Linked DNA regions of Homo sapiens. The protein of the gene in region 3 purifies or fractionates together with the protein of the main gene of each other region. This does not show direct contact. Each region holds a gene or a part of one and is shown on either strand. Other genes may lie near its edges.

Evidence for each region. The genes of interacting proteins can lie anywhere in the genome.
Region 1: the proteins of SCCPDH (region 3) and USP13 purify together in Homo sapiens (affinity purification with mass spectrometry; 4 studies listed by BioGRID and IntAct, with this or other methods). This does not show direct contact.
Region 2: the proteins of SCCPDH (region 3) and ZZEF1 purify together in Homo sapiens (affinity purification with mass spectrometry; 2 studies listed by BioGRID and IntAct, with this or other methods). This does not show direct contact.

Annotation. Positions count from the first base shown.
Region 1 is NC_000003.12:179,761,033-179,768,059, forward strand, and holds part of USP13 (ubiquitin carboxyl-terminal hydrolase 13), read left to right. Parts: intron 1-79; coding exon 80-223; intron 224-2,969; coding exon 2,970-3,136; intron 3,137-4,662; coding exon 4,663-4,816; intron 4,817-7,027. UniProt on the Homo sapiens protein: Deubiquitinase that mediates deubiquitination of target proteins such as BECN1, MITF, SKP2 and USP10 and is involved in various processes such as autophagy, endoplasmic reticulum-associated degradation (ERAD), cell cycle progression or DNA damage response.
Region 2 is NC_000017.11:4,140,011-4,147,066, reverse strand, and holds the start of ZZEF1 (zinc finger ZZ-type and EF-hand domain-containing protein 1), read left to right. Parts: upstream 1-4,036; 5' UTR 4,037-4,171; coding exon 4,172-4,525; intron 4,526-7,056. Other genes in the region: CYB5D2 (neuferricin isoform 1 precursor), read right to left, coding at 3,062-3,311. UniProt on the Homo sapiens protein: Histone H3 reader which may act as a transcriptional coactivator for KLF6 and KLF9 transcription factors.
Region 3 is NC_000001.11:246,755,402-246,762,428, forward strand, and holds part of SCCPDH (saccharopine dehydrogenase-like oxidoreductase), read left to right. Parts: intron 1-2,824; coding exon 2,825-2,955; intron 2,956-3,632; coding exon 3,633-3,750; intron 3,751-4,555; coding exon 4,556-4,675; intron 4,676-4,769; coding exon 4,770-4,826; intron 4,827-7,027.

The sequences.
Region 1 (7,027 bases), on a different chromosome or scaffold from region 3:
GATAGGAGAGTGGAGAGTAGCTAAGACAAGAAGCGACAGTTTCCTCTTTCACACTAGAATATCCTGTTGTGCTCTGTAGCATCAGACATCGATGAGTCATCAGTGATGCAGCTGGCCGAGATGGGTTTCCCGCTGGAAGCATGTCGCAAGGCTGTGTACTTCACTGGAAATATGGGCGCCGAGGTGGCCTTCAACTGGATCATTGTTCACATGGAAGAGCCAGGTAGGTGGCGAGAAAATGGAATGGCTTTGGAGTCTGATGTGACCCTCAGTGATGCTGAGTCCTGGTCCTTCCAAGGTCCCTGTGGATGTATCCCTAGAAAATGACTTTATAGTTCCTAATCTCCTGCAGTGGAGGAGAAAGCCAGTCTTTTTCTTCTTCTTTTTTTTTTTAAAAACAGCAGCTTTAGGCCAGGCGTGGGGGCTCATGCCTGTAATCCCAGCACTTTGGGAGGCCAAGGCAGGCGGATCACGAAGTCAAGAGATGAAGACCATCCTGGCCAACATAGTGAAACCCCATCTCTACTAAAGATACAAAAATTAGCTGGGCATGGTGGTGCGTACCTGTAGTCCCAGCTACTCAGGAGGCTGAGGCAGGAGAATCGCTTGAACGCAGGAGGCGGAGGCTGCAGTGAGCCAAGATTGCACCACTGCACTCTGGCCTGAGTGACAGAGCGAGACTCTGTCTCAAAAAAACAAACAAACAAAAAAACAACAAAAAAAACCCCAAACAGCTTTATTGAGATATAATTCATCCCTTTAAAGTGTATAAGTCAGTGGCAAAAAGACCAATAGAAAGATACGGGATATACTTCTAACTAAGCGATGATGAAAATTTGAAATGGAAACATGGGCATGAAGAAATGGAGGATGTTTAGTTAGCTTTTTCTTTTATCTACTTTATTAAGCTATAATGCATATATTCATCTGTTTAAAGTGTACATTTCAATGGTTTTTCATAAATTCACAGTTGTGTAACCATTACCACTATCAAATTTTAGAACATTTTGTACCCTTCAAAAGAAATCTCATACATAATAGCAGTCACTCCCCATTTTCCTGCTCACCCCAGCCCCTGGCAACCACGAATCTGTTTTCTGGATCAAGGGATTTGCCTGTTTTGGACATTTCATATAAATGGAGTCATATAATAAAAGGTCGTTTGTGTTTGGTTTCTATCACTTAGCATAGTGCTTTCAAGATTCATCTATGTTGTAGCATGTGTCAGTACTTCATTCCTTTTTACGGTAAAATAATAGTCTGTTGGGTCGGGTTTGGTGGCTTACGCCTGTAATCCCAGCACTTTGGAAGGCCAAGGCAGGAGGATCATTTGAGGTCAAGAGTTCAAGACCAGCCTGGCCAACATGGTGAAACCCCATCTCTATTAAAAATGCAAAAATTGTCTGGGCATGGTGGCGGGCACCTGGAGTCTCAGCTACTTGGGAGACTGAGGCAGGAGAATTGCTTGAGCCCAGGAGACGGAGGTTGCAGTGAGCTGAGATCACGCCACTGCCCTCCAGCCTGGGCAACAGAGTGAGACTCCATCTAAAATAATAATAATAATAACAATAATAATAGTCTATTTTATGGGTATACTATATTTTATTAATCTTTATCAGTTCATGGACATTTGGGTTATTTACATTTTTTGGCTTTTATGAACAATGCTGCTATAAACATTTTTTACAAGTTTTTGTGTGGATGGACATTTATTTTTACTTCTCTTGAGTGGAATTGCCATGTCATATGGTAACTCTATATTTAATTTTGAGGAACGACCAAACTGTTTTACACAGTGGCTGAACCATTTTACATTTCCACCAGTAATGAATGTGAGTTCCAATTTCTCCATATCATCACTAACCCTTATTATTATCTTTTTTATCATACCCATCCCAGTGGGTATGAAGTGGTATCTTGTGGTTTTGGTTTGCATTTTCCTAATGACTAATGATGTTGAACAACTTTTCGTATGTTTATTGACTGTATATCTTATTTGGAGATATGTCTATTCAAATTCTTTGCCCATTTCTAATGAAGTTATCCTTTTATTATTGAGTTCTAAGAGTTCTTTACAAATTCCAGATACGAGTTTCTATGAGATATATGATTTGTGTTTTCCCCCCCATTCTGGTGTTTTTTCACTTTCTTGATGGTATCCTTTGAAGCACAAACATTTTTAATTTTGATGATGTCCAATTTATCTTTTTTTTCTTTTATCACTTGTGCTTTTTGTGTTGTAAATAAGAAACCATTGCCTAATCCAATGGCAAAGACTTACTCCTGTGTTTTCTTCTAAGATTATTATAGTTTTAGCTCCTATATTTAGGTCAATGAGCCATTTTGAGTTAATTTTGTGTATGATGTGAGGTGAGGGTCTGACTTTATTCTTTTGTATGTGGATATCCAGTTGTCCCAGCATCATTTGTTGAAAATAATGTCCTTTCCCCACTGAATGGTCTTGTTGAAAATCAGTTAACCACAGGTATATGGTTTTATTTCTGGAATCTCAATTCTATTTAATCGATCCATATGTCTGCCTATATACCAGTACCAGACTGTCTTTTTTTTTGAGACAGAGCCTTGCTCTCTTGCCCAGGCTGGAGTGCAGTGGTGCAATCTCAGCTCACTGCAACCTCCGCCTCTTGGGTTCAAGCGATTCTTGTGCCTCAGCCTCCCAAGTAGCTGGATTACAGGTGTGCACCACCATGCCCTGCTAATTTTTGTATTTTTAGTAGAGACAGGATTTTGCCATGTTGGCCAGGCTGGCCACGAACTCCTGACCTCAGGCGATCCACTCGCCTTGGCCTCCCAAAGTGCTGGGATTACAGGCATGAGCCACTGCGCCTGGCCCAGACTGTCTTGATTATTATAACTTTGTAGAATCATGTTTTTCCTTGTTAGTGTTGTTTCAGGACAAAAAAAAAAAAAAAAAAAGGAAAAGACTTGGGTGTGGTTATTTTTCTCAGATTTTGCTGAGCCGCTGACCATGCCTGGTTATGGAGGGGCAGCTTCTGCTGGAGCCTCTGTTTTTGGTGCTTCTGGACTGGATAACCAACCTCCAGAGGAAATCGTAGCTATCATCACCTCCATGGGATTTCAGCGAAATCAGGCTATTCAGGCACTACGAGCAACGGTGAGCATGAGAGACTGTGTGTGTGTGTGTGTGTGTGTGTGTGTGTGAATTTATTTCTGTAGCAGTTGAGACTTTCCAATGTACTTTGATCATTTTGATTCATGTTTGATTCATCTAACTGTGAATCTCATCATAGCCCATAAAGATTTATTTGCATATTATAAATATAAAGCTAAAATGAATGATTTTCACACAGCGAATGAGATAAATAAATCTGGGGTAATATGAGCAAACTGAAAGAAACTTGATATCATCTTGAATGTTTGTTAACAGGGGGTCAGAAATTTGACTTGGAGGCTGCTTGTGGCCCTAGAGGAAAGAGGGATGCATGAAATTCCATGTTCAGTAAGAAGTCCTTTAGGAGATAGAATGCTTTTCTGATACCAAGACCTTGGGTAAATGTCTCTTAAAAGTCCTCATAGAAAACTGAATGGCTCCTTGGAATTCTCTGCTGCTGTTTCTCTCTGCAGAAAGAGAAGGTTCTTCTGGTAGCCATGAACTTCTTGATACCAAGAAACAAGGGACTCTGAAACTACAGGGTAGACAATTCCCTTCTGCAGTGCTGATATCTGTTTAATCTTGAGGGAAGGTACTTAAAAAACAAAACAAAACCCATCCTTCCTGGTCACACCATAATCCATTTTTGAGTAGATATCTGCTCTCAATTACTTCTTGCCTATCCTGATGGGGTGCCTGCTAGGATCCGTTGCTGAGGTCACAGTGGCTCTTGATTGTCTCATGAGGATGTGGCTAGGACAACCTGTCTCCCTTTAAGATGATTAAAATATCTCAACCAGAGTTTGTTTTACTTGGGGTACTTTCTTGTGCTCCACTCATTTTATTTGCCTGACTGTTTCATTAGAGGTTTTATATCTATACAAATTCTTTAACCTGCCAGAAATATCACAAGCTGAGAAAGATGGAAATATTTTTATGGTCAATTAGTTTGAAGTACATGGAGTTCAGTTTAAACAATTATACTTAACTAATCAGTGTTGTTGTCATTAATCAAGATATTAATCTTGTCTTTACTGGAATTCAAACATTTTACCAACATTCCAGGAGAGAAGGCTCTAACATAATACCACACTGGCATCCCTCTATTGTTCAGTTATCTGCAGAAAATACAGTTGGTAGAGAAGGTAGTGTGTGCAATTAAAGTGGCTTTAGAAAGAGCTGCACTTAAACAAATGCCATACCCTTGGTTATTCCACACCTATTATTATCAGCATCTTCCTGCAGAAAAGCTGAGCTAACATTGATATAAACTTTGGAATGCTGATCTGCTGCTTAGAACTCTTTTCCAGTGAATCCAATTACAGATGTCAGCTGGGAGACTTGCAGAATGCCATGCCAACTGAACGTGCCTGTCATGCGGAGTCAGAGCTTCTTACTCAGTGGCACTTAGGACTAATTAATTCAGACCTCCTTCCCTATCTGCCTGACATCTAGTTGAAATGGTCAGGACATAGTGAGGCCTGAGGCTGCATGCATTGTAAAAACATCTGTTTCTTTTTTGTTGTTAGAATAATAACCTGGAAAGAGCACTGGATTGGATCTTTAGCCACCCTGAGTTTGAAGAAGACAGTGATTTTGTGATTGAGATGGAGAATAATGCCAATGCAAACATTATTTCTGAGGCCAAGCCCGAAGGACCTAGAGTCAAGGATGGATCTGGAAGTAAGTTCTTGCCTTAGAGGCTGTCTGAGCAGTCAGAACTATACGTTCAGCTCATGCCCTTCCCTCCCACCACAACATAGTCAAGCCTTTGCCATCATTCAAAAGTTAGCACAGATCCCATCTTCTTCGTTTTTTTTTTTTTTCTTTTTTGAGACAGAGTCTCACACTGTTGCCAGGCTGGTGTGCTGTGGCGCGATCTCGGCTCACTGCAACCTCCGCCTCCCAGGTTCAAGCCATTCTCCTGCTTCAGCCTCCCGAGTAGCTGGGATTACAGGCATGTGCCACCACACCCAGCTAATTTTTGTATTTTTAGTAGAGACGGGGATTCACCATGTTGGCCTGGCTGGTCTTGATCTCCTGACCTCGTGATATGCCTGTCTCGGCCTCCCAAAGTGCTGGGATTACAGGCATGAGCCACCATGCCTGGCCAGATCCCATCTTCTTAGAAATGGTGCAGTTTGCCACTTTGCATAGGCCCCGGTGATCTGATAAAGTCATGTCAGAATCATGTTGCTTGGTCATGTTTGTGCCCAAGTTTAGGGCCAACTTTGATTTTGTCTGTTCCTTTGAGGTAAAATTTCTTCATGGACCATGGGAGCTTTTGTCAAAAAGAGAACATTTGTTTTCATGGTAGTGTTTTTTGAGTAGTAGCAAAGTGGTCTCATCCTTGATCATATCGTTACCCGTACCAACTACTAATAATATCCTGAAGGGGTGTCTCAGGATGACAGGAAGAGGCGCCATAGGCCGTTGTTCTGCCTTTTAATAGCAAACACTTATGTATGTCACTATGTGCCAGGCACTGTTCTAAGCACTTTGCATATCAACACTCATGTAATTCTCACTACAACTGATTTTACAGGTGAGAAAATATAAGCATAGAGAGCTTGGGTACCTTGCCAAAGGCCACACAGCTCTTAAGAGATGGAGCCAAGATTCAAACCCAGAATCCTTGTTCTTAACCTTTGTGATATCCTGTTTCTTGGGCTGTCATTGCCTGTAGAATAACATTCAGGCTCTTTAGCTTGGCATTCAGCACCTCCTCCAGTCAGATCCAGGCCACCTGGTCTCCCAGTGTCACTTCTATACTCCCTATACCTGCAGCTGAGATGCCTGGGACTGTAGCCACACTCTTAGCCTACTCAGCTGTCAACAACTCTCTTCTCACTTAACCTGCAGACTCAGGTTAACCCCTATTTGTGAAATGAGCCTTCTCTCCCATCACTGCACACTAAAATTCTCATCATTATTTAGAACTTGGCCACAGATTCCATTTCTCTGGACTGCCTTCCTAGATCCTTGTCATAATCAGCTCATGCTTACCTCATATGCTAGCAATAATTATACCAGTATGAAAAATACTCCCATTTGTGCCATCTTTAATCCTCACAGTAACCTTATGAGGTACATACCATTATTATCCCCATTTTACAGGTGAAGAACCTGAGATAGAGAAGGCTAAGTAATAGCTTGTCAAGGTCTCATAGCTAGTGATGGATAGAACCACAATTCCAGTGCAGGCAGTCTGCCTCCAGAGCCTGTGCCTGTAGCCACTGTAATGCATTGTTAGTTTTTTTTGGTTTTTTTTTTTTTTGAGACAGAGTCTCACTCCATCACCCAGGCTGGAGTGCAGTGGCACGATCTTGGCTCACTGCAACCTCCACCTCCCAGGTTCAAGCGATTCTCCTGCTTCAGCCTCCCGAGTAGCTGGAATTACAGGTTTGGGCCACCACGCTCCCTTGTTAGTTCTTCTGTTGTTGGAGGTATCAAGTTGATCTTGCAATAAAATTACTTCTGTAGGTATTTGTGTCTCCCATTTGACTAGGAGCTTGCCCAGGGCAGAGGCCATTTGGCTTTTATAAAACTCATGGTGTCTAGCATGGTGCTAGACACATAGAAAGTACTGAGTAAATAACAGTTGTATTTAACTAAATCTACACTAGCAGCATTTGTTCCTATAATCATATAGTGGCAGATTTACTCATTAATGTTCTTTCCAGACCTAACATGTACGTATTCATATACAGATAGAAAGAGACGGTGGGAGGGAACTGTCTTCTTCTTTTTTTTAATATAAAATAGGAATTTCATCACTGAAACTGTTTCAATGCCAACTGGATAAGAAAGGATGAGATGTCGTTCTCCCAATTTCCATACTCATTTAAAGTATCTGGTATTACTTTTCAGAAATTACTAGCTTGCCTAAAATAT
Region 2 (7,056 bases), on a different chromosome or scaffold from region 3:
AGTAGAAAGAAACCAAAAATCCATCAACTGATAGATAAAATGTGGTATATCCATATTATTAGAATTATAGTATCTATAGAATATTTTCAGCCATAAAGGAATAATGCACTGCTACATGCTGGTACACCATGGATGAACCCTTAAAACATGATGCTAGGTGAAAGAAGCCAGACACAAAAGGCCACACGTATGACTCCATGAAATGCCCACAATAGGCCAATCGACAGGAAAAGAAAGTAGATAGTGGTTGGCAAAGGAAGGAATAAGGAGTGACTGCTAATAGATAAGAAGTTTCTTTCTGGGGTGAGAAGAATGTTCTAGAGTTAGTGGTGACATTTTTACAAATTTCTGGCTATACTAAAAAAAAAAACCCACCGGGCCAGGCGCGGTGGCTCAGGCCTGTAATCCCAGCACTTTGGGAGGCTGAGGTAGGCAGATCACGAGGTCAGGAGATCGAGACCATCCTGGCTAACACAGTGAAACCCCGTCTCTACTAAAAATACAAAAACTTAGCCAGGTGTGGTGGTGGACGCCTGTAGTCCCAGCTACTCGGGAGGCTGAGGCAGGAAAATGGCATGAACTCAGGAGGCGGAGCTTGCAGTGAGCCAAGATTGCGCCACTGCACTCTAGCCTGGGCGACAGAGTGAGACTCCATCTCAAAAAAACAAAAAAAACACTGAATTTTGGCTCATACCTATAATCCCAGCACTGTGTGAGACCTAGGCAGGTGGATCACATGAGGCCAGGATTTCCTGTCCAGCCTGGCCAACATGGCAAAACCCCATCTCTATTAAAAATAAAAAAAATTAGCCAGACATGGTGGCACACGCCTGTAATCCTAGCTCCTCGGGAGGCTGGGGCACAAGAATATTGAACCCGGGAGGCAGAGGTTGCAGTAAGCCAAGATTGCGCCACCGCACTCCAGCCTGGGCTAAAGAACCAGTTTATCTCGAAAAATAAAAATAAATAAATAAAAAGGTTGGGGGCAGTGGCTCACACCTGTAATCCCAACACTTTCAGCGGCTGAATCACTTGAGCTCAGGAGTTCAAGACCGGCCTGGCCAACATGGCGAAAACCCATCTCTACAAAAAATACAAAAATTAGCTGCACGTGATGGTGCACACCTATGGTCCCCGCTACTTGGGAGGCTGAAGTGGAAGGATTGCTTGAGCTTGGGAGGCGGAGGTTGCAGTGAGCCAAGATCATGCCACTGCACGCCAGCCTGGGTGACAGAGGCAGACCCTGTCTCTAAACAACAAAAAACCCCACTGAATTGTATACGTTAAAAGGACTTTACATCACGTGAATTACATCTCAATGAGAAATAAAATACTGAATGAACGAATACGTGGACATAACTGCTTCCCAACTAGACTGTGTGGGCGGTGGGGAGCATGTTGCAGACATCTTGGATTCCACAGCCCCTGACACAAGGTAGGTAGTGGTAAATAAAGATGGTCAATGAATACCAGAACACGGGAGCTCAGTAAACAGCAGAGCACACTGAAAAATAAAAAGCACTCCAGACATCGAAGGTTTTATGCCCACACTTGTGCAAACATCCAACGACAGCTCCCACAGCACGCAGCAGGGCAGCGCAACGAAAACTGCCTTCAACTAGCAGCGACAAAACACCTTGATTCCAGTCCCAGCTCTGCTTCTAACTCACTGTGTACCCCTGAGTAAGTCCCTTCCCCTGCTGGACTATCTCAGGGGATTTGCGAGACCAACTGGACTTCATTCCTTTTCTGTCAACTTTTGTATTTCTTTAGTACTTCCTAGACAGAGGGAAGTGGCTTGTATTTTAAGTGCTAGAGGCAGCTTCCCAATTCCCCTAAGATAATGACAAGTGGAAAATGCTTATTTAATGTCAGCCTAGTAGCTGATCTTAGGCTTGCCCTGCACTTTTTTTTTCTTTTTAAATTTTGGAGGTCAGTCCCGCTGGCTGGCAAGGCAACATCTGTAAAAAAGCACTAGGCTGGCCGGGTGTGGTGGCTCACGCCTGTAATCCCAGCACTTTGGGAGGCCAAGGTGGGCGGATCATAAGGTCAGGAGATCGAGACCATCCTGGCTAACATGGTGAAACCCCGTCTCTACTAAAAATTCAACAAATTAGCCGGGCGTGGTGGTGGGCGCCTGTAGTCCCAGCTATTCGGGAGGCTGAGACAGGAGAATGGCGTGAACCCGGGAGGCAGAGCTTGCAGTGAGCCGAGATCAGGCCACTGCACTCCAGCCTGGGCGACACAGCGAGATTCCATCTTTAAAAAAAAAGCACTAGACTGGTGGTCCGAGTCCATATTCTGTCAGTATTCAGGTGTGAGGGTTTCAGGCAAATCGCATCCTTTAACCCCCTCAGCTGTAACACAGGGACACCAGCATAAACTTAATTTGACAAATGTTTCTTGAGGCCTAACATATGCACAACTTTGGTCTACGTATCAAGGACTGTAAAGGTGACTGGACCCCTTTCCTCTGCCCTAACCTTCTAAGGAAGGCAAACAGGTGCATCTTGTACTAGAAGCAGGAATGACTCAGACCAAATGTACTATATGACGGGCCATAAAGGAATAAAGTATTGATGCATGCTCATAAACCATGGATGAACCTTGAAAACACTATGCTTAGGGGTGGGGGGAAGAAAGATTATTTGGGACCAGGGCATAATGAAGAGATGGTTGGAATTATTAAGGAAACTGTGAGGGTAGGGGCGGGGCGGGATCTCGTTTATCTGTGCCCTAAGAGCCCCCACAAAAGTCCGGCACACAGCCCGTATCCTAGGGCTTCCGACGCTGGGTAATGGGTAACAAGAGACAGAAGACATGTTTCTCCAATGTAAGTCACGCAGGGCGGTGGTGGATGACAGAGCTGGCCCACAGTCCCGCCAGAGCCAGAGAGCCTAGAAGGATAGTGCATGCAGCTCGTCCCGCCCACCGCACGGGTTTGATGGATGTGGGGTGGGGATGGGGGGGGAAATAGATGAATAATGAACCAACGAACGACGCGCAGGTGGCTACTGGCTCGCGCCAGCGGAGAGAAAGGCGTGAGCAGCCTCGCTGATACCTGCGAAGCCGCTATAGTGGGACCCAGGCTCGTAGTGCCTCCGGCCGGAGGACACATCGTAGACACGGCCGAGCAACGCCAAGTACAGGCCCGGGTCCCCTGGGCCGCCGCGGTAGCGAGACAGCTCCTCCGGTATGAAAAGGCGAAAGCCAGCGCGGGGACCCCACCAGCCCATAAGCCGTGCTGCCATTACCGCTGCTGCGGCTACAGCCAGGCCCAACAAAAGCCCACGGCCTCCGCACCTCAACATCTATATAGGCCCACCCGCTCCGCACTTCCGAGGTTGCCGCCTCTATCTACAGCTAAGATGGCCGAGACGCCGAGCGTGACGTCATCGGCGCGCGCGCTCTCGCTCTCTCTCTCGCGCGCTAGTGCTCGCGCTCCCTCCCTTAGTCTCTCTCGTTTTATCTGTATTCCTGGCACTGGCGAAAAGCTCGCTGTCTGCGACTTTTTCCAGGTACTTTTTTTTTTTTTTTCTGAGACAGAGTTTTAGCTCTTGTTGTCCAGGCTGGAGTGCACTGGCGGAATCTCGGCTCACTGCAACCTCCGCCTCCCGGGTTCAAGCGATTCTCCTGCCTCAGCCTCCCAAGTAGCTGGGATTACAGGCACGCGCCCCCACGTCCGGCTAATATTTTGTATTTAGTAGAGACAGGGTTTCACCACGTTGGTCAGGCTGGTCTCGAACTCCTGACCTCAGGTGATCCACCCGTCTCGGCCTCCCAAAGTGCTGGGATTACAGGCGTGAGCCACCGCGCCTGGCCCTTCTCGTACTTCTTGGCTTGCAGGTTGTCAGCCCCAACAAAGATGGCGGCAGCGGAGGCTACGGAATGACGTAGATACTGAGACAGACTCGTCCTCTGGGAAATCAAGGTTGCACCCTTTGAGGCGGCGCTCCCCGCCTAGCTGTCGTGAGTTGGTAGAGGCCGCCTATCTACGTGACGGCGCCTTTGCGACAGCGGTCGTCGCTTGACGGCCAGGAAGCCGGAAGCCGCAGGGGCCGCCGTCGTCTCCTCCGCGTCCCCGCCCGCCAGCTGCTGTCGGAGGTTGACAGGTCGAGGCGGGGAGGCGGCGGCGGCGGCTGCAGAGCCAGGCGCCCAAGACGGAGACCCCATGGGGAACGCTCCGAGTCACAGCAGTGAAGACGAAGCGGCAGCTGCCGGTGGCGAGGGCTGGGGCCCACACCAGGACTGGGCCGCGGTCTCGGGCACGACCCCCGGCCCGGGCGTCGCGGCTCCAGCGCTACCACCCGCCGCGGCGCTGCTGGAGCCGGCCAGGCTGCGAGAGGCTGCTGCAGCGTTGCTGCCCACACCCCCCTGCGAGTCGCTGGTGTCGAGGCATCGCGGCGCGTTGTTTCGCTGGCTGGAAGAGCGGCTGGGCCGCGGCGAAGAGTCTGTCACTCTGGAGCAGTTCCGGGAGCTGCTGGAGGCTCGCGGCGCCGGCTGCTCTAGCGAGCAGTTCGAGGAGGTCAGGGCCGGCAGGCGACTGCGGGGATGGGGCAGGGCGGTCGCCCCCAGGGGACTGAAGGAAGAGGTGGGCATTTGCTTTGGAGAGGCCAGGCGGGGACCCATATGAGGTGTTTCCAGCTTTTCACCAGGCGTTTGCTTCGTTTCTCTTTAACCTATGTTAGAGGTCTGGAAAGTCTGCATCAGGCCGTCCTTGCTCTGAAGAGCTGGACAAGCCCATATGTCTCTCTCTGTATGTTGTAATGCAGACCTTTGTGCAGTTGATTGACGCTACTCTGGAGATCTTCTATCAGATTCTCGAACAGTTTGGAGAGAAAAGAGATGTAAGGATAGGAGGAGTGGCGCTGAGAACCATTTTTTGTATTGTCCTGTCCAGGTTTTTACACAGCACCTTCCCAATTCAGTGTGGGCGCCGAATAAGTGTGGAAAGACAGTAGTAACATGCTGGAAAGGCTCACATTCTAAAACCTATCCTCCTCATGCAAAAACTAGCTTTTCTAAAATACATACTGGTTTGTAGATCCTTAAAGAACCATATATTAGACTCATTTAAACCTTCATAGGATCCGAAACTGATAGGCAAATACCAGGTTTCCTGTGAATACTTGTAATTATGCAGTTCTTCATATAATCACCAAGATCATGTCTGCTAAGTCATTAAGAGAGCAAATTGATTTGGCAACAAAATATTTTCCTTGGAAGGCATTTTGGGAGTTTATTTACTGGGCGCTTCACTTCGAGTTAAGAAGACTGATCCAGGGTTACCCAGTGAATCATTAGTAAAACAGACTATCAACTAGATCTCTTGCTTTTTTTTTTTTTCTTTCTTTCAACTTTTATTTTAAATTCAGGCGTACATGTGCAGGATTTGGATTTGCAGATGTATTACATAGGTAAACGTGTGCCATGGTGGTTTACTCCACACAGCATCCCATCACCCAGGTATTAAGCCCAGCATCCATTAGGTATTCTTCCTGATGCTCTCTCTCCCTCCACCCGCACCCTATTTTTTGTTTTTAATGTCTCACTACCTCCTTCCTGGGATCCTATTTCTTTTAACACCACGGTATGACCAAAAAGGTACTTATTTTGTGAAAATGAGTTAGCCAGTCATGTAGAATCTTCAGTGGCCACGAAGGGTGTGTACATAAAGCAGTAAACCAGCGGGTACTTGCAGTGCCTTTAAAAGGTTCTGTTCACCTTAAAATCAGAGGCTTTTAAAATATTTTAAGAATGTCTTCCTGTACATGGCCAGAATTCAGATAATGTAGTTTGTGTGTTTCTTATGAAAAAAGTACCTTTAAGGCATCCCAACCCTTAAAAATAATAGTCATGGCTGGGCGCAGTGGCTCACGCCTGTAATCCCAGCACTTTGGGAGGCTGAGGCGGGAGGATCATCTGAGGTCAGGAATTCAAGACCAGCCTGGCCAACGTGGTGAAACCCCACCTCTACTAAAAATACAAAAATTAGCTGGGCATGGTGGCGGGTGCCTGTAATCCCAGCTACTTGGGAGGCTGAGGTGGGACAACCGCTTGAACCCAGGAGGCGGAGGTTGCAGTGAGCTGAGATCACGCCACTGCATTCCAGCCTGGGCCTCAGAGCGATACTCTGTCTCAAAAAAAAAAAAAAAAGTCATATTAGTTAGTGAAAGATCTCCTTTTTTTTTCCCCCCAGGAATACACATAGTACCTTCTTTCTAGTATCTACGCGTATTATGAGAATATGAAGTAGTAGTGGGAAGAACCATGCAGAACTGTTGAAGGAGATGGCACTTTGCAGATTTGAGCAAAGGCAAATGGAGAGAAACACCGTTTACATTCTGAGAGTTTCTGACAGAAATAGAACTTTATGTAGAGTTCATAGGAGTCCCTTAATAGAAGGTCAAGAAATACTTGAGGTGTGGTCCAGAAATCACTCAGGGGTTGTGGCATTATTGTTCACTGAGCAAATGTTTATTGGGCGTATATCGAGTGCCACTCACTTGGATGACAGTGGACAAAGCAGATACTTGCTCTTAAAGAGTATGTAGTTGTGGTGGAAGAGACAGGTATTAACCCATTAATTATAAGATATGGTGAGTGTTAACCGAGGGGGAAGGTATAAGGAATAAATAGCAAGTGTATTTAACCTCACTTGGGGCTCAAGCAAGACTTACCTGAGAAGGTAACATTTCAGCCCACAGGTGAATGGTGAAAGCAGATAGTGTTACAGGAGGTAGTAACAGCGTTTCAGGCAGAGGAAATTGTATCCACAAAAGTTCAAAGTCCAGAGAATCTGGAAGAAGTCTGGTGTGGTGTATTAGGGATACACAAAACTTTTTCAAGGGACAGAAAACCTAATGCATCAGTGGTTTAAACATAAAAAGAAGCTGCTTCCTTATGAAAATGTCCAGGTAGGCAGTCCAAGATTGATGTGGCAGTGTTGTCATCATCAGGGACCTGGCTTCGTCCATCTTGTGCTGTCATCCTCCACGGACATCTTCCACTTAGTAATTCTGTTGACTCCTGCTGTCATTTTCCACATTCCAACAA
Region 3 (7,027 bases):
TTATTAAGTCAGCATAAACCCTTGACATATGGTAAAGGGGCTTTTCCTATCATTTTTCTTTTCTTTTTACAAATCCACTTTTACTGGTATTTATTTACTTTTCATTAGTTCAAATCCTTGAGGAGTACAGCATCACAGAGCCGCCGTGACTAGTGGCCTAAGCAGGACGGCTGCTTTGGAATTAGGCACACATTGTGCCACTGTTTCCGTGGGCACACGTTACCTTTCTCCACCTTACTCTGGTTTTGTTTGGTTTGCTGCCAGGAGTCAGTATTATTCTTTGTACACATAAGCGCATTTCCTGCCCAAATCAAATCTCATTTTATGTCAGCCATAAATACCTTCAGTTTTAAGAAGAGCTGTGTCCTCCCTTTGGTTCTGGAGATCCTGCTGACGGCAAAAACGGCCTTGGACCACAGCTTTCCAGGCATACTTGTCATTTAGAATTCCTCCTCCCAGCAGGCCTCCGGGCTTCAAGTTGGCAGGAACAGCAAGGGGGCTTTTCGGTAGATGCTGCTGGGACAATTGAGTATCTACTTGGAGAAAAAATGGAATTGGATTCATACTTTTGCACCCCGTACCAAAATCAAGTTTAGATGGATTGTGGATGCCCTCACGGTTGGGAATGGCTTTTACAAAAAGACAAAGAGGCATTAAATGTAATGAAAAAGTGATACGTTTGTGTACTTTTAAAATTGAGAATGTTTCCCAAAACACACGATTAAGAAAGTCAAAAGGCTAGCTGCAATGTAGGAGTTACTTACAACACGTGGTAAATCCTGACATCACAATTTTGAGCATAAGAAGCCAAACACTCAGTAATAAATCTTGCTTGATTGCATTTCTGTAGAGCTTAGAAACAGGCAAAACTAATTGTACTGTTTAGGGATGAATTCTTAGGTGATTAAACTCTAAAGAAAAGAATTTTTCTTGATTACTGTAAAGGCAGGACGGAAGGAGGGCCTTCTTAGTTGCTGGTTACCTGTAGTTCTTGACCTGGATGTTTACATGTACGTTGGCTTCATAACATACATGAATATACAATTTAATAAAATTGTATTAGGTACGTCTCTATATTTTTCTGTGAAACGCAAATAGTTTTTTAAATTGAATGTAATTTTTTCCTTTTCAATGGCTTAGTTGTATAAGAAAATATGTTTAGATTTTTAAAAAGCTGTTTTCTCCTGGTGTTTGGAATCTTTACATTTGTAGAGATTCACATAGGCCCTTTTGGCTAGGCTCAGATTGAGTAGATAACAAATCAAACCTTTAAGACTTTAGTTCTGTTGTAGTTTTAATAAAACAGAAGAAATAAATCTGTACCAGAATGAAAGTTAGATTTGGTATCTCTGCTTTTCAGTATCATCAAAGCTGAGATAGGAAAACCTGAATCTTTGGATGGTTTTATTGTTTCTCTTATTTTGTTTATTAACAATGAAAGGTACCTTCATATCTGCCTCCCACATATCCCTCTTTGAAAATCTTGTGACAGAATTAGTTTTGAATCTTTCTGAATTACTCTGTTGACCTAAACAATGTAAACAACATAGAAGGAAGGACATAATACAATTATGTACAATCAATATAATAAATGAAGTTTATTCCTGTAATAGAGAATTAAAAGGCCCACCTAGAGGTTGGGAAAGAAAGGTCAGTGCTAGGCCGGGCGCGGTGGCTCATGCCTGCAATCCCAGCACTTTGGGAGGCCAAGGCGGGCGGCTTGCCTGAGGTCAGAAGTTCGAGACCAGCCTGGCCAACATGGTGAAACCCCGTCTTTACTAAAAATACAAAAATTAGCCAGGCATGGTGGTGGGCACCTGTAATCCCAGCTACTCGGGAGGTTGAGACAGGAGAATTGCTTGAACCTAGGAGGCAGAGGTTGCAGTGAGCTGAGATCGTGCCATTGCACTCCCGTCTGGGTGACAAGAGCAAGACTCTGTCTCAAAAAAAAAAAAAAAAAAAAAGGGCCAGCGCTGTGATAGTAAATTCAGAGGTCGTGTCCTCTCCTGGGGTCTCAGCCACTCGTTTCTCGGTGGCGCTAGAGGTAAGGGTTGGGGAAGCTGTAAAGAGTATTGGTAGAATGGAAGGCACTGACAGCCCAAAGTCTCATGAAAGGATGAAAAATCAGTGAATAAATGAGAGTCTGAGTAAGATCAGGCAAATACTAAGGACTCTGTACTGGCTGTGATACCAAAAAGAAATCAAGGGATTGAGGAAAGCAATTAAAATACAAATCATTATTAGTGAACTTTAAATGTTTTAAACAATTATTTTACTAAGACTTCAGTAGGAAGACAGATCTATAACTTGGGGCTAGAGTAAGAGGTGTTGGAGGTAGACGGGGAACCAGGTGTAACAGGATGGAGAGATGGACAGTACACAGTGTATGTATGCATAAATGTGCACACGGACATATCCAGAAATGTTGAGGAATTTGTGTAGGATCGAGAGAGGATTAGGGTGGCTATTCCTGCAGATCATATGGGGCAGAAAAAAAAGGATTAGAGTGGCTGATCTTGAAGGAATATGGTCAATTAGTTGAGTAAAATTGATGAAGTAAAACTAAATAACTTATTACAGAATATAAAGAATGATAGGAGGGGAGAAGAAAGGGCTTCTCGGTGTAAATATTGGGTATGATCAAGCTAATGAATGTGACTGCTCCCTAGCTGGTCATGAAAATTCTCCTCAAGATTATTAAATCAGGGATTATGTCTTGTCCAAATATAAGTGAAATATTGTTTGTAACAATGATAAGTTACTTGGCTTTACATTTTAGTAACTACCCTTTCATGTTTCTTTAACTCTTGAAATATTTTATTAGGGGTTGAGCATTCATGATGGTACCTGGAAGTCAGCAATTTATGGTTTTGGAGATCAGAGTAATTTGAGAAAACTAAGAAATGTATCAAATCTGAAACCTGTCCCGCTCATTGGTCCAAAATTGAAGAGAAGGTAAATTAACTTAAAATCCATTTTTTATATATCTAGTCTAAGTATATTGTTGTTGGGTTGGCTATTAATAAAGTATGTTACTAAGAAAAGCTTGGAGACTAATTTGTAGTAAGTTCAGAATTGTTTTCACAGATAAATAAGATATAATTAATCCATTACCATATGCTTGAGATAAATAAGATATAATTAATCCATTACCATAAGCTTAAGATAAATAAGACATAATTAATCCATTACCATAAGCTTAAGTACTTCGTGTGTAATAAAACATGTGAATCCTAGGAAATAAGTGAATCTTATGATGACTTTTCACTATCAATATAGAAATTAACTGTCAACTAAATTTTATGTGAGAACTTTTTTTCTTTTTTAAAAATTTATTTTAGTTTAGTTTTATACTGCAGGACATATGTGAGAAGTTTAGAGGTAAGAATTTAGGGTTGGGCTGTTGAAAGGAGCGTTCTGGTTTTTTTTTTCTTTTGAGACAGAGTCTCTCTTTGTTGCCCAAGTTGGTCTCAAAGTCCTGGCCTTAAGTGATCCTCCTGCCTCGGCCTCCCAAAGTGCTGGGATTACAGGCATGAGCCACCATGCCCTGCCACTGATTTGCTTATTCAGACATTTACCAGCCAAAGTTGTAATTGCAGGAAATGCAAAATATTCATAGGTCTGTCTTGCAGGTGGCCAATTTCTTATTGTCGGGAACTCAAAGGTTATTCCATTCCTTTTATGGGATCTGATGTGTCTGTTGTAAGGAGGACTCAACGTTACTTGTATGAAAATTTAGAGGAATCACCAGTAAGTATATATGGTTTATTTATCAATAAAGTGTGTGTTACAGTTCCTCTTTCTATTCAGTGTGGGATATTTTTGTTTATAAGGCAGAAAAAGGAAGAGCTAAGTAATACATGTTTCAGCCTCTGGAAATACACAGAATCATTAGGGTAGAACATTTTGTATTTTATAACCTTGTCTTTTGATTCAGATCTGGCTGCTGAATATCTTTTTAATGTAACACAATAGCAGCAAATTCAATACGGGAAATCCTGCTGTCATAAGCACCCCAGAATCCCTGTTTAGGGTTTCAGTTGCTAGAAACTCTTTTGCTTGTGGAAATGTCTGGAACCCTTTCTGTCCCCTCTCTCCTTGCCACGCCTGGAGTTCCATCCTGCTGCTTTTGGCGAGGAAAGTAATTGCTTTCATTGCCGAGACTTCAGGAGGAAATTATATTTCAAGTTAAAAGGTGGAGGGCATTTTCTTATAGGAGTCTACGTTCTGTAATGTATGATTGCTAAGCTCAGATATATTAGGGATTATGTAGATTTTTGTGCCCAAGTAGGGGAAGCTAATTACTATTTATAAACAATTTTCTTTAAAAAGTAGACTATCATACTTCCTGTTCACCAGGTCTGACAAAACAAACAAAAAATAGGCTCCCAATGTCTGGTTTCTGAACAAGATTTCAGAACATAATGCATTTGTAAAGTGGAAACTGCTTTTGTTCCACATTTGTGATGGAAGAGAAAGGTACAAGTAACTAACATTCTTACTTGGTCCAAAATGTAGGGAGTAATGTTCTAACTTTGTCTTCTCCATCATCTAGGTTCAGTATGCTGCGTATGTAACTGTGGGAGGCATCACCTCTGTTATTAAGCTGATGTTTGCAGGACTTTTCTTTTTGTTCTTTGTGAGGTTTGGAATTGGAAGGCAACTTCTCATAAAAGTAAGTAAGATTTTATGAAATTAGATTATTTTTATTAGAAGTATTTTCCATGAGTTTTAAAAAAATATCACTGACGGTTTTTTTTTCCCTTTAGTTCCCATGGTTCTTCTCCTTTGGCTATTTTTCAAAACAAGGCCCAACACAAAAACAGGTAATTTCTTTTGTATTAAGACACTAAAATAATATTTTTCTTTGTGCAATGACGGTATCATCTAACACTTGACAGGGCACTATGTTTCAGATACTCTTTTAAGTTCTTTATGTAAATTAGATTATTCAATCTTTTCAAACACCCCTTGAATGTAGGTATTATTATTATCTCCATTTTACACATCAGAGAACTGAGGCACACAGAGGCTAAGAAACTTGCCCAAGTTTCTCCAGGTAGTACATGGCCCAGCTGGGATGAGAACCCAGCCATTTAGCTCCAGAAATTGTGTTCTCTTCACTTCCAGAAATCTCAAATATTCTTCTTCCTCCATTTTTCTCCTCTGTTATCTTTTCCTTTGTGCCTCCTCTGCCCCCAGTTTCACTTCCTCTTCCACATACCCTGGATTCCGACGGGGGATCAAGTGAATTTCTGTGTGTCCAGCATCCCCAACAATAGGACTGCCTCATTTTCTACCGTTTGGCTTACAGATCCCAACCCTGGCTCAGGCCTTGGGTCATTAGCTTTCATCTCCTTGACACCAGGCACTCCTGGGGGAAATCCCACTGCTGAACAGATGGTAGCAGCAAGTTCCCGTTTCCCCCTCTGTGGAATGTTAGCATCACTTGCTGATTCTTTTCCTTTTCGTTAGTCTTGCCTCTTATCTCCTCTCAGTGGCTTTCTTCAAAATCTACCCAACTGCAGCTGTCTTCCCTATCTGTAAATTATCCCAACTCCTACCTCACTAAAATAATTGAGAGCACTGTTTTGTATCCCCTCAAATTCCTACTCTCAGACCTATCATCATTGTTCCCATCCTGACCTTCTTTCCTCCTCTCTGGATGATATACTCCCTGTACAAGGCTAATCCCCGCCTGTGCACTTAACGTAGCATCATTGTTCCATCCCGACCTTCTTTCCTCCTCTCTGGATGATATGTTCCCTGTACAAGGCTAATCCCCCGCCTGTGCACTTAATGTAGGCACTGTGCAGGAATGCGCCACCACGCCCGGATAATTTTTTTGTATTTTTAGTAGAGACACGGTTTCACCAAGTTGGGCAGGCTGGTCTTGAACTCCTGACCTCGTGATCCACCTGCCTCAGCCTCCCAAAGTGCTGGGATTACAGGCGTGAGCCACTGCGCCCGGCCTCTTTTTTCTTCTTATTGTGGTAAAATACACAAAACATAAAATGTACCATCTTAACCATTTAAAAATGCTGAGTGGTATTAAGTACATTCATCTTTTTGTGCAGCCATCACCACCATCCATGTCCAGAACACTTTTCATCTTGCACAACTGAAACTCTACACCCGTGAAACAATAACTCCTCATTTCCGCCCTCCCCCAGCCCCGGCAACCGCATTCCGCTTTCTGTCTCTATGAATTTGATGACTCCAAGTGCCTCATGTAAATGGAATCAGTCTTTGTCTTTTTGTGACTGGCTTATTTCACCTAGCGTAAGGTCTTCAAGGTTCATCCATATTGTAAGCATGTGTTCGAATTTCTTTAAGGGTGAATGATTGTCTGTTGCCTGTCTGGATCACATTTTGTGTATCCATTCATTCATCAGTGAACACATGTGTTGCCTCCAGCTTTTGGCTATTGCCAGTTATGCTGCTGCGAACATGGGTGTACAGATACCTCTTCAAGACTCTGCTTTAAATTCTTTTGGGCATATACTCAGAAATGGAATGCTAGACCGTATGTGAATTGTATATTTAACTTCTTGAGGAACCACTAAACTGTTCTGCAGAGCTGCTGCACCGTTTTACCTTCCCACAAGCAGTATACGAGAGTTCCAGTTTCTCTGCTTCCAAACCGACATCTGTTATTTTCTGTAATGGCCGTGAGGTGGTGTCTCATTGTATTTTTGATTTGCATTTACCTGATGATTATTAGTGTTGAACATCTTTTCATTTGCAATTATTGGCCATTTGTATGTCTTCTTTGGAGAAAATATTTTCAAATCATATATTTGACAGAAGATTCATATCCAGAAAATATAGAGAACTCCTAGAACTCAATAACAAAAAACAACCTAATTCAAAAATGAACAGAAGGACTTGAAAATATTTTCTGTTATTCTTTGGGTTGCCGTTTTACTTTGTGGATAGTGCAGGCTTCTGTCTCGTGGTTGGTAGTGCAGGCTTCCATCTCTTGCTTGAACTTTTCGTAGCATTCCTACGGTTTCTTTCTAATCTG